Linked DNA regions of Homo sapiens. The protein of the gene in region 3 purifies or fractionates together with the protein of the main gene of each other region. This does not show direct contact. Each region holds a gene or a part of one and is shown on either strand. Other genes may lie near its edges.

Evidence for each region.
Region 1: the proteins of DPCD (region 3) and RAB18 purify together in Homo sapiens (co-immunoprecipitation; one large-scale study listed by IntAct). This does not show direct contact.
Region 2: the proteins of DPCD (region 3) and KSR2 purify together in Homo sapiens (co-immunoprecipitation; one large-scale study listed by IntAct). This does not show direct contact.

Annotation. Positions count from the first base shown.
Region 1 is NC_000010.11:27,510,797-27,514,455, reverse strand, and holds part of RAB18 (ras-related protein Rab-18), read right to left. Parts: intron 1-3,659. UniProt on the Homo sapiens protein: The small GTPases Rab are key regulators of intracellular membrane trafficking, from the formation of transport vesicles to their fusion with membranes.
Region 2 is NC_000012.12:117,759,395-117,763,053, forward strand, and holds part of KSR2 (kinase suppressor of Ras 2), read right to left. Parts: intron 2,131-3,659; coding exon 1,617-2,130; intron 1-1,616. UniProt on the Homo sapiens protein: Location-regulated scaffold connecting MEK to RAF. Has very low protein kinase activity and can phosphorylate MAP2K1 at several Ser and Thr residues with very low efficiency (in vitro).
Region 3 is NC_000010.11:101,605,180-101,607,759, forward strand, and holds part of DPCD (protein DPCD), read left to right. Parts: coding exon of another isoform or gene 1-33; intron 34-2,580. UniProt on the Homo sapiens protein: May play a role in the formation or function of ciliated cells.

The DNA.
Region 1 (3,659 bases), about 74 Mb from region 3:
TTTCATTTATTTTTCTTTCCACTCAATCAGCTTACCTTGCATTTTCTCATGCAATCATTCTATTTCTTCCCCGGCCTCTTATGTCAAGTGCGTTGTGCTCTCAGCAGTAAATACTTCATTAAGTTTTCTAAACTCATGGCAAAATGTTTGATCACAATATTCATCTTCTTTATGGCAATATTTTAGGTTACTGTTCTTCATCTGTCCTTTGTTTTTCTGTTTCTTTCTTCCTTTTTTATTTCCAAACATTTGTGGCAGTCAAGCTTAATGAATTCCTTTTGATTATTCATCTCTGAAGAAGTGCTGGTTGTCCAGAACCTGATATTTGTAGGAGGTTTATGCAGAAGGCCAGAGTGCCTCCAGTTCTGGACTGACAACTTTTTCGTGATTCAGAGATTTACCTAAGAGACAGTTTAGCATTTTACTTCTCAACAGCCAATGCAGACAGGCAGTCTGGAGGTTTTTCACAATGCAGTCATCTCCTCCCCAACTGCTATAGAGATAGACACATATTACTTCCTGCAAAAATGGCTTGTTTATGTGACTCCTTGTTTGGCTTCATTTCCCCGACTTCTTAGAATTAAACCAGGTGCAGGAAAGCTCCTGCCTTGAGCTGAAGAAACCCACTTCACTTTTGTAAACAAGGGGTTTAGGTTTTATACCTCAGGGGGGCCTTGCAGTTTCATGGGTGTTTCTTGTTGTCTCTGAGCTCCACAGCCACGGCATCCTACCTACTTCTTCCCACATGCAGCCAGCCTGATGGCCACTGCTCCTGGCAACATTTCCACCTATTTTGTGGCTTGGGGTTTTTAACTGTCTTCTAGTTTAGTGGAATGCTGGGTTTGTGTGTCAGTTTTTCCCTCTCTTTGTTGTTTTTAGCTAATTGCCAAGAAAGAAGAATGCTAACTTTATAGTACCATCTGCAAATCCCAAATCCAACAATTATCTTAAAAGAGTATTTTATGCAAGACAGAAACTTAAGTGTCTCACTAAGTTACTAAAAGGTAACAATACACTTTCCTTACTACTATTTTACTGTGGGGTAAAATACCAATTTTCATAAAACACTAATTTTCACAAGGCCATTAAGTAATTGTTTTTATGTTTAAAACTCATGTGTGGGCTGGGCGTGGTGGCTCACACCTGTAATCCTAGCACTTTGGGAGGCTGAGGCGGGTGGATCACTTGAGGTCAGGAGTTCAAGACCAGCCTGGCCAATATAGTAAAACCCCATCTCTACTAAAAACATAAAAATTAGCAAGGCATGGTGGCACACACCTGCAATCCCAGCTTCTTGGGAGGCTGAGGCAGAAGAATCACTTGAACCTGGGAGGCGGAGATTGCAGTGAGCTGAGATCATGCACCACTGCACTCCGGCCTGGGCAACACAGCGAGACTCTTGTCTCCAAAAAAAAAAAAAAAATATATATATATATATATGTTATTACCTAAGGCTGAAAGTAATCTGATGCTTCAATGTAAAAGATATTTTGTTCAACATATTCAAGATCTAGGGCCTATTTGGGGAACAAATTACATATATTTTCACCAGCATACTATAATCTTAGTATTTGTCTTTGCAGAAGACAAAGCCTTTTTAGTAATAAAGACAACCCACGATTTGTCATGCCACAAGTCCCCAAATTCCATTTGGGTTTGTAATGAAGACAGTTAATATTATATGTATGTTCATTCCTTCAGTAAAATTTTAACTTTAGGCAAGTTTATTTTCCTGCCAGTTGCTACTGCTCTCCTCCTGGCTAGCCAATACCAATACGTACTCAGGCAGGTTCTGACCAAAATAAGGTTTTACTACTAAGTAATTTTTTATAGGAGTAAATAATACACCAGTATGGGCACAGTGGCTCACACCTATAATCTCAACACTTTGGGAGGCCCAAGGTGGGTGGATCACTTGAGGCCAGGAGTTCAAGACCAGACTGGCCAACATAGCAAAACCCATCTCTACTAAAAATACAAAAATTAGCCAGGTGTGGTGGTGCATGCCTGTAGTCCCAGCTACACAGGAGGCTGAGGCACCAGAATCACTTGAATGGGGAGGTGGAGGCTGCAGTGAGCCAAGGTTGTGCCACTTCACTCCAGCCTGGGCAACAGAGCAAGACTGTGTCTAAAAATAAATAAATAAAATTAAATAATAATAATTATTATTATAATACAACAAAGCCAAATTACAATGGATTTTGAATTCGTGTTTTAAATGATTCCCTTTCCTATGACACAAATAAGAGTAAATCTGTAAATCTTAATATCATGCAAAAGCTAAGTAATGCCTAATTTATTGAAAATTTAGAGGCACCATGAGTTCATATGAAGAAAAAGAAACAAACAAACATGAGCTCCTCCTGAGCTGGGCATGGTGGTACATGGCTGTAGTTCCAGCTACTTGGGAGGCTGAGGCAGGAGGATCACTTGAGCCCAGGAGTCTCAGGCCAGCCTGGGCAACACAGTGAGACACTGCCTCACAAAAAAAGAAAAAAAAAGAGCTCTTACTTACAGAATTCCAAACAAGATACATAGACAGAGTGATGGCATTTTAAAAAAATCCCCATTTGATAACCATCACAGTTGGAATGAAAAGATCATATACTGTCCTTATCACTTGTCACAGGCAAGAATTATCAATGGATGCTACAACAGGAGGGCAAAAAGTGTAAGAAGGAGGATACCTATACAGTCTCAATGTATCTCTCTACAAGAAATATATTAGTTATGAAGGGAAAAATAATAACTTCACTGACACTATGTTCTGAAAAACACTTCTGTGGAATTGCTGCCAAAACTGCATAACCTGAATCTAACCGTTAAGGACATACTGGACATACACAAATTGAGAGACATTCTACAAAATAATTATTTACTCTTCAAAAATGTCAAGGCCCTGAAAAGGCAAATAAAGACTGAAGAATTGCTGATTAAAAGAGGCTGAAGAGGCTCGACGCGGTGGCTCACACCTGCAATCCCAGTACTTTGGGAGGCCGAGGTGGGTAGATCACTTGAGGTCAGGAGCTCAAGACCAGCCTGGCCAACATGGTAAACCCCGTCTCTATCAAAAATACAAAAAAAAATTAGCCAGGCGCAGTGGCATGTGCCTGTAGTCCCAGCTACTTGGGTGGCTGAGGCAGGAGGATCACTTGAACCTGAAAAGTGGAGGTTGCACTGAGCTGAGTTGGTGCCACTGCACTCAGCCTGAGCGACAGAGCTAGACTCTGTCTCGAAAATAAATTAATTCATTAATTAAATGAAATAAAAGAGGCTAAAGAGAAATAACTAAAATCAGTGTATGATCCTGGACCCGAAACAATTATTTGTCTTTTGCTATATGGGACATTAATGGGACAACTGATAAAATCTGTGTATAGACAATAAAATGTATCTATGTTCATTTAAGAAATACACATTAAAGTATGCAGACGTTGAAGACATCATGTCTACAATCTACTCTCATTTTTTTAAAAAAGAATACTGTGTGTAGAGAGAGAATGATAAAGCAAATGTGACAAACATTAACATCTGGAGTAATTTAATAGGATACATAAGAATTATTTGTGCTATTTTTACAAATCTTTGAGTCTGAAATTGTTTCACAATAAAATTTTAAAAATAGACATACAATCAATGAAAACAAATAAAGCCAGTTA
Region 2 (3,659 bases), on a different chromosome or scaffold from region 3:
TAAAGTATTTACTATCTGCCCCTGTACAGAAAAAGTGTGCCAACCCTTCACTTACAGAATCCTGCCTTTTTAAAATGGTGATAAAATATACATAATATAAAATTTACCATCTTAACCATTTTGAAGTGTACAGTTCAATGGTACTAATTACATTTGCATTGTTGTACAACCATCACCACCATCCATCTCCAGAATGTTTTCATCATCCCAAATGCAAAGTCTATATCCAATAAATAACAACTCCCCATTCTCCCTCCCCTCAGCCCTGGCATCCACCGTTCTACTTTCTGCCTCTATAAATTGTCTACTCTAGGTATCTCATATTGGTGGAATTATACAGTATTTGTCATTATGTGTCTGGCATATTTTACTCTTAGCATGCTGTCTTCAAGGTTCACTCATGTTGTAGCATATATCAGAAGTTCCTCCCAGGTCGGGCATGATGGCTCATGCCTGTAATCCCAGCACTTTGGGAGGCCAAGGCGGGCAGATCATTTGAGGTCAGAAGTTCAAGACCAGTCTGGTCAACATGGTGAAACCCTATCTCTACAAAAACTACAAAAAATTAGCCAGGCGTGGTGGCACAGGCCTGTAGTCCCAGCTACTTGGGAGGCTGAGGCAGGAGAATCACTTGAACCTGGGAGGCAGAGGTTGCAGTGAGCTGACATCCCACCACTGCTCCAGCCTGGGCAACAGAGCTAGACTCCGTCTCAAAAAAAAAGAAGTTTCTTCCTTTTTAAGCCTGAATAATATTGCATTGTATAGATAGACCACACTGTGTTTACTCATTTGTCTACTGATGGACACAGGTTGTTTCTACTTTTTGGCTACTGTGAATAGCACAGCAACCTGCCTAATCCTCGAGTCTCACCCTACATCACACACCTGCTCTCTCCCCCAAAGGGGTCCTCTGTCAATTTCCCCAACGTGTCCTGCTTCCTACCACCTTCAACTGAGATGAGCCGTGGATATAAAATACACATTCAATTTCAAAGACTTTGTATTTTAAAAAATGCAAAATATCTCTGTAATGATATTTTACATTGATTCTTTGTTAAGATATTATAATTTTGATATATTGGGTTGAATGATGTATTATGATCATTAATATCACTTGTTCCTTTTCATTCTTTTTAATGTGACTACTAGAAAGTTGAAGGTTAATATATGCCTCATATCCTATTTCTAGGAGCGGCACTAGGCTAGACTCTGCAGGGGTTGGCAAACGTTTTCAGTAAAAAGCCAGATGGTAAATACTTTCAGCTTTGTGGGCTATTCTCACTCTGCCATTGTCACACAAAAGCAGCCATAGGCAACACATAAAGGAATGATCATGGGCGTGTTCCAATACCTTTTATTTACAAAATCAGGCCGGGTATCAGATTTAGCCCCTAGGCCATAGGATATTAATCGTATTTTTTAAACGGCCAATTCTGGGAAATTCTGTTCTATTCATTTGCTCAGAACCCTCTGTGAAAAGCCATTTTTCATTCAACCAGAGTCTGGAACGCAAGTCTGTTCCCGGTTTCCTTGACCTGGGCAGTTCCTGGGACCAAGGGGCAGCCCCTCGCAGGCCGGGTTTCGACCGCCCCAGGGCACCCACCGATCGCACTCACTTGGGCGTGTGGGCCTCGTCCACGCGGTGCCCCAGCTGGAACTCGTGGGATTTGCTCCGATGCAGCGCGGTGAATCCCGGGATCAAGTGTATCAGTTTTCGGGAGGAGGGCGGTGGGGTCCCCGGGGGCTTCAGCTTGTTCTTCTTCCTCATGGGCGGCGTGCCCGGCGGGGTCACGGTGGTGACGATGTTGGGGGTGCGCGGCGGGGTGCGGACCGCGTGCCGCTGCCGGGGCGATGGGGGCAGGGAACGGTGGCCCGACTCCAGTGGCGGGGGCGGGCACAAGCCCGGGTAGGCGTCCACGGTAAGCCTGTCCACGTGGGTGTACACAGGGGCCCCGGGAGTGGGGCTGGTGTGACAATAGTGCTGGACGCACTTGGACGGGACCCTGGGGCTCTGGGAGAGATGGGTGCGGATCCACGGGGTGGGCTCCGGGGGGCACACGGGATTGTTCTCCTTCCCCGTCTCTGTCGTGGGCCACTGGATGGTCCAGTCTTGTTTGGAAAGGTTGCCTCCTGAGTTGGAACAGAAGAGCAGAGACAATGGGTAAGCCATGAGAAAGCCAGGTGAGTTACACCATACACACCATTACATCATACACACATTACACCACGTGCCCATTACATCATGTGCATGTTACACTATATACCTGTTACATCGTATGCATGTTATCTCATATGCAAATTATATCTTATGCACATTATACCATGTGCCCATTACATCATATGCATGTTACACTATATACCTGTTACATCGTATGCATGTTATATCATATGCACATCATATCATATGCATGTTACACTATATATCTGTTATGTTGTATGCATGTTATATGCACATATCATATGCACATTACACCATATGCATGTCACATTATATGTGCATTACATCATATGCATGCTATTTCATATGCCCATTACCTCTTACAGACATTCTATCAAATGCATGTTACATCATACCCACATTACATCATAAGTACATTTACATAAAGCCAACCATCTCTACTTGGCTCCTCCAAAAAGACAATAAAATCCCCTTGTTGACCCTGTTACCCTATTCTCCATTCAACAGCCTTGCCTTCCACTGCCCCATAGCTGGGAAGACCCCACAGCCCAAATGCTCAGAAAAGCAAAGAAGTTAATTCTCACTTTTTGAACTTCCCAAGGTCCCAGTTCTGGTAGTTTCAAAGTGATTTAAAGGACTTTAAAGGATAACTTTTCCCTTACATGGAAATTTTAATACCTAACCCTCATGTGAGATACACAAATTCCAAGGAAGTCAAGTTCATCCTTAGTCCCTCCCTGACCACTTCCTCAGCCACCGCATACTTCCTCCAGATCTGTGTCGCCATGTTCTTATTCATGCATTTGTCCAGTAAACATCCTGTGAGTGCCAACTATGCCCTTTGCTTGGAAAAGACACAAAAGCAACACAGATGAGACCCTGGTCCCCTGGACTTACATTCTGCCAAAGCAGCCATGATAGACAAGAAAACATGCTCACAGAAGGATTTCACATGGTTATTGGTGCTGGGAGGGAAATAAACAGAATGACGTGATAAAAAGAATATGGGCAGCTGGGCACGGAGGCTCACACCTGTAGTTCCAGCAATTGGGAGGCCGAGATGGGCAGATTACTTGAGGTCACGAGTTTGAGACCAGCCTGGCCAACATGGTGAAACTCCATCTCTACTAAAAATACAAAAAAATTAGCTAGGTGTGGTGGCGTGTGCCTGTAATCCCAGCTACTCAGAAGGCTGAGGCAATAAGAATCGCTTGAACCCAGGAGGCAGAGGTTGCAGTGAGCTGAGATCGCACCATTGCACTCCAGCCTGGGCAACAAGAGTGAAACTCAGTCTCAAAAAAAAAAAAACCTTTTTTTTATTTTATTATTATTATACTTTAAGTTTTAGGGTACATGTGCACAATGTGCAGGTTAGTTACATATGCATACATGTGCCATGTTGGTGTGCTGCACTCATTAACTCGTCATTTAACATTAGGTATATCTCCTAATGCTATCCCTCCCCTCTCCCCCGACCCCA
Region 3 (2,580 bases):
CGGTGTGCAGGTGTGCATGGCACCCCCTCTGAGGTATGTGAGGCATGACCCAAGTGATTGTCCACAGCAGCCCTGCTCCTGCCTTCAGCCTCCAGAGTCTCTCTCCCTCTGAGGGCCTGGCCTCTGGTGCCCTTTTGGGTTGAAAGGCTGGATTGGGGAGGGGATACAGTAGAGAGTGGTGGGAGGCAATAGATCATTACTGAAATAGTCAAAATGGAGGAGTCGTCTGTCAAACAGGGAGAAGACAGGTACAGAGTTGGCCTGTTCTGGGCCCTTTGACATTGACTTCAAGTTCATCTAGTGCAGCTCTTTTATTCGAAGAAGGAATGTGGAAACTGAGGCCCAGAAATTAAGTGACCTGTCCGGGGTCACAAGGCAGGGCCAGGAGTTCTGCTACAAGCCTTTACTTCCACATACATCTTTTGAAGACTTTTGACATTCAGAAAGGAAGGCCACTGATGTGTTGGAGAGAGTACCCAGGGGACCCGCAGAGTGTTCGGACCCCAGGGGAGACAACCTGTTCATTGTTGAACATCCCCACCTCCCACCTCAATATCTGCCCCATCATTGGACAAATGCAAATAATCTAGACTATGGCGGGCTATTACTTTGTGGTGAGAATGTGGAGACATGGAGGTGTCAGGAGATTTGGGGAATTCTCACTTTAATACGGGCTTCTCTGTTTACCAGCTTTGTGAGTTGGGCAAGATATCTAACTTTTCTGGGCCTCAGTTTCCTTTTGTTTAAAAGTGGATAATAGAAGTAACCAACCTGAGAGAGTTGTTTTGACAATTAAATGTGTTTAGAACCTGGCACAGAATAAGCTCTTAAAATGTCATCTTTCATTGTATGGCTGAAATAGAACATTGAAGGGAGGTGGGAATGGGGGAGAGCGGGGCATCTGCAGGAAGCCAGGGAACTATCCTGCTGTAAGGGTTCATCTTTTAGCAGAAACAAAACAAGGTCTGATCAGCAGGGATATGGCCTTGTTCCTTTTTTTGAGATTGAGTCTGGCTCTGTTGCCCAGGCTGGAGTGCAGTGGCACGATCTTGGCTCACTGCAACCTCCGCCCCCTGGGTTCAAGTGACTCTCCTGCCTCAGCCTCCCAAGTAGCTAGGACTACAGGTGCTGCTACCACGCCTGGCTAAGTTTTGTGCTTTTAGTAGAGACAGGGTTTCACCATGTTGGCCAGGCTGGTCTTGAACTCCTGGCCTCAAGTGATCTGCCTACCTCGGCCTCCCAAAATGCTGGGATTACAGAAGTGAGCCACTGCATCTGGAGGCCTTGTTTCTTCTTCATCCTTTTCTTTTAATTTTTTGTAGAGACAGGGTCTCGCTATGTTGCCCAGGCTGGTCTTGAACTCCTGGCCTCAAGTGATCCTCCCACCTCAGCCTCCCAAAGTGCTGGGATTACAGGCATGAGTCACCAGGCCCGCCCTCTTCTTCATCCTTAAATCCCCAGCTCACAGCTCAAGGTCTGGGACACAGTTGATGCCCAATAAATGTTTGCTGCCTACCTACAGCTGCCTGAGGCTGAACGTTATGACCCTTCCAGAAGCACAGTGGGTCTCTCTCTTGTCCAGGTGCTGGTGAGAAAGTCAAGTACAGTACCTATCATGGAAAAACCCTATGTCTGGGGGAATGGGTGTGAGAAGGGGGTGGGCTTCCCCAGGAGGAGAAAAGGCAGATGCTCCCTACTCCCTTGAGCCTATCGGGAGCTTCTAAGAAGTTGGTTAACCTCGACCAATAAACTAAATCTATTACAAGAGACTCAAAACCAAGCTGAGCCTCCACCTGCTCTGCCTCCATTCCTCTTGCCTGGTGGTAGGAGTAGTTCAAGGAAAGCAGGTGCAAGCTATGCACCTAAAGTTCCCTCTGATCCTGTCCTTGCTGTTGTGGCCAAGCCCTGGGATTCATTTTCCGGTCCCACTGCCCCAGCCTGGGGGAATGGTTCTGCTGGGCTGCTTCCCTCCTGGTTCTGCTTTTTGTGTATATTTGCAGGGAAGATGTTAACACTTCCTAACAAGTCTTTGTGTTCATCTAATCTCTGCTGTTTAACCTTTGACTCTCCCCTATTATCAGTGTCTGCCACCTTTGCTGGCCAGACCAAAGGCCCCAGGAAGAGCCCTCAGCCTGAGCTGGCTAGGAAGAGGATGAGGCAGGCATTCCATCCCCGGTTTGCAGGCAGATGGATCGCCTTTCCCTGGGGCAGAGCTTTGGAAAATAAAGCAACTTGCAATGCCATTAGGATCCCCCAGCCCCCACTCCTTTTGAACTGTCAGCCTTTAAGTAAACATTCTTTTCCTGCCATGGGTCCCAGTACCTTGGTGGGGAGTGGGGAACCTGGGAGGAGAGGGGCCCCGAGAGCCTCTGTTGAACGGAGGGATTTGGGCAGGGAGGACGGGGGCAGAAGTGCTGCATTGATGTCAACTCTCTGAGTCCCCAGGGCATAGGGGCTTTTGAAGTGGACTCAGGGTAGCTGTCACCACAAGGACCAGGCCCCTCTGAAGTACTAAAAGCCCCATCCTCCCCAGGCCTCTCACTTGAGTTTGTTTGTACCTGCCTGAGGTGTTTCCCTTCA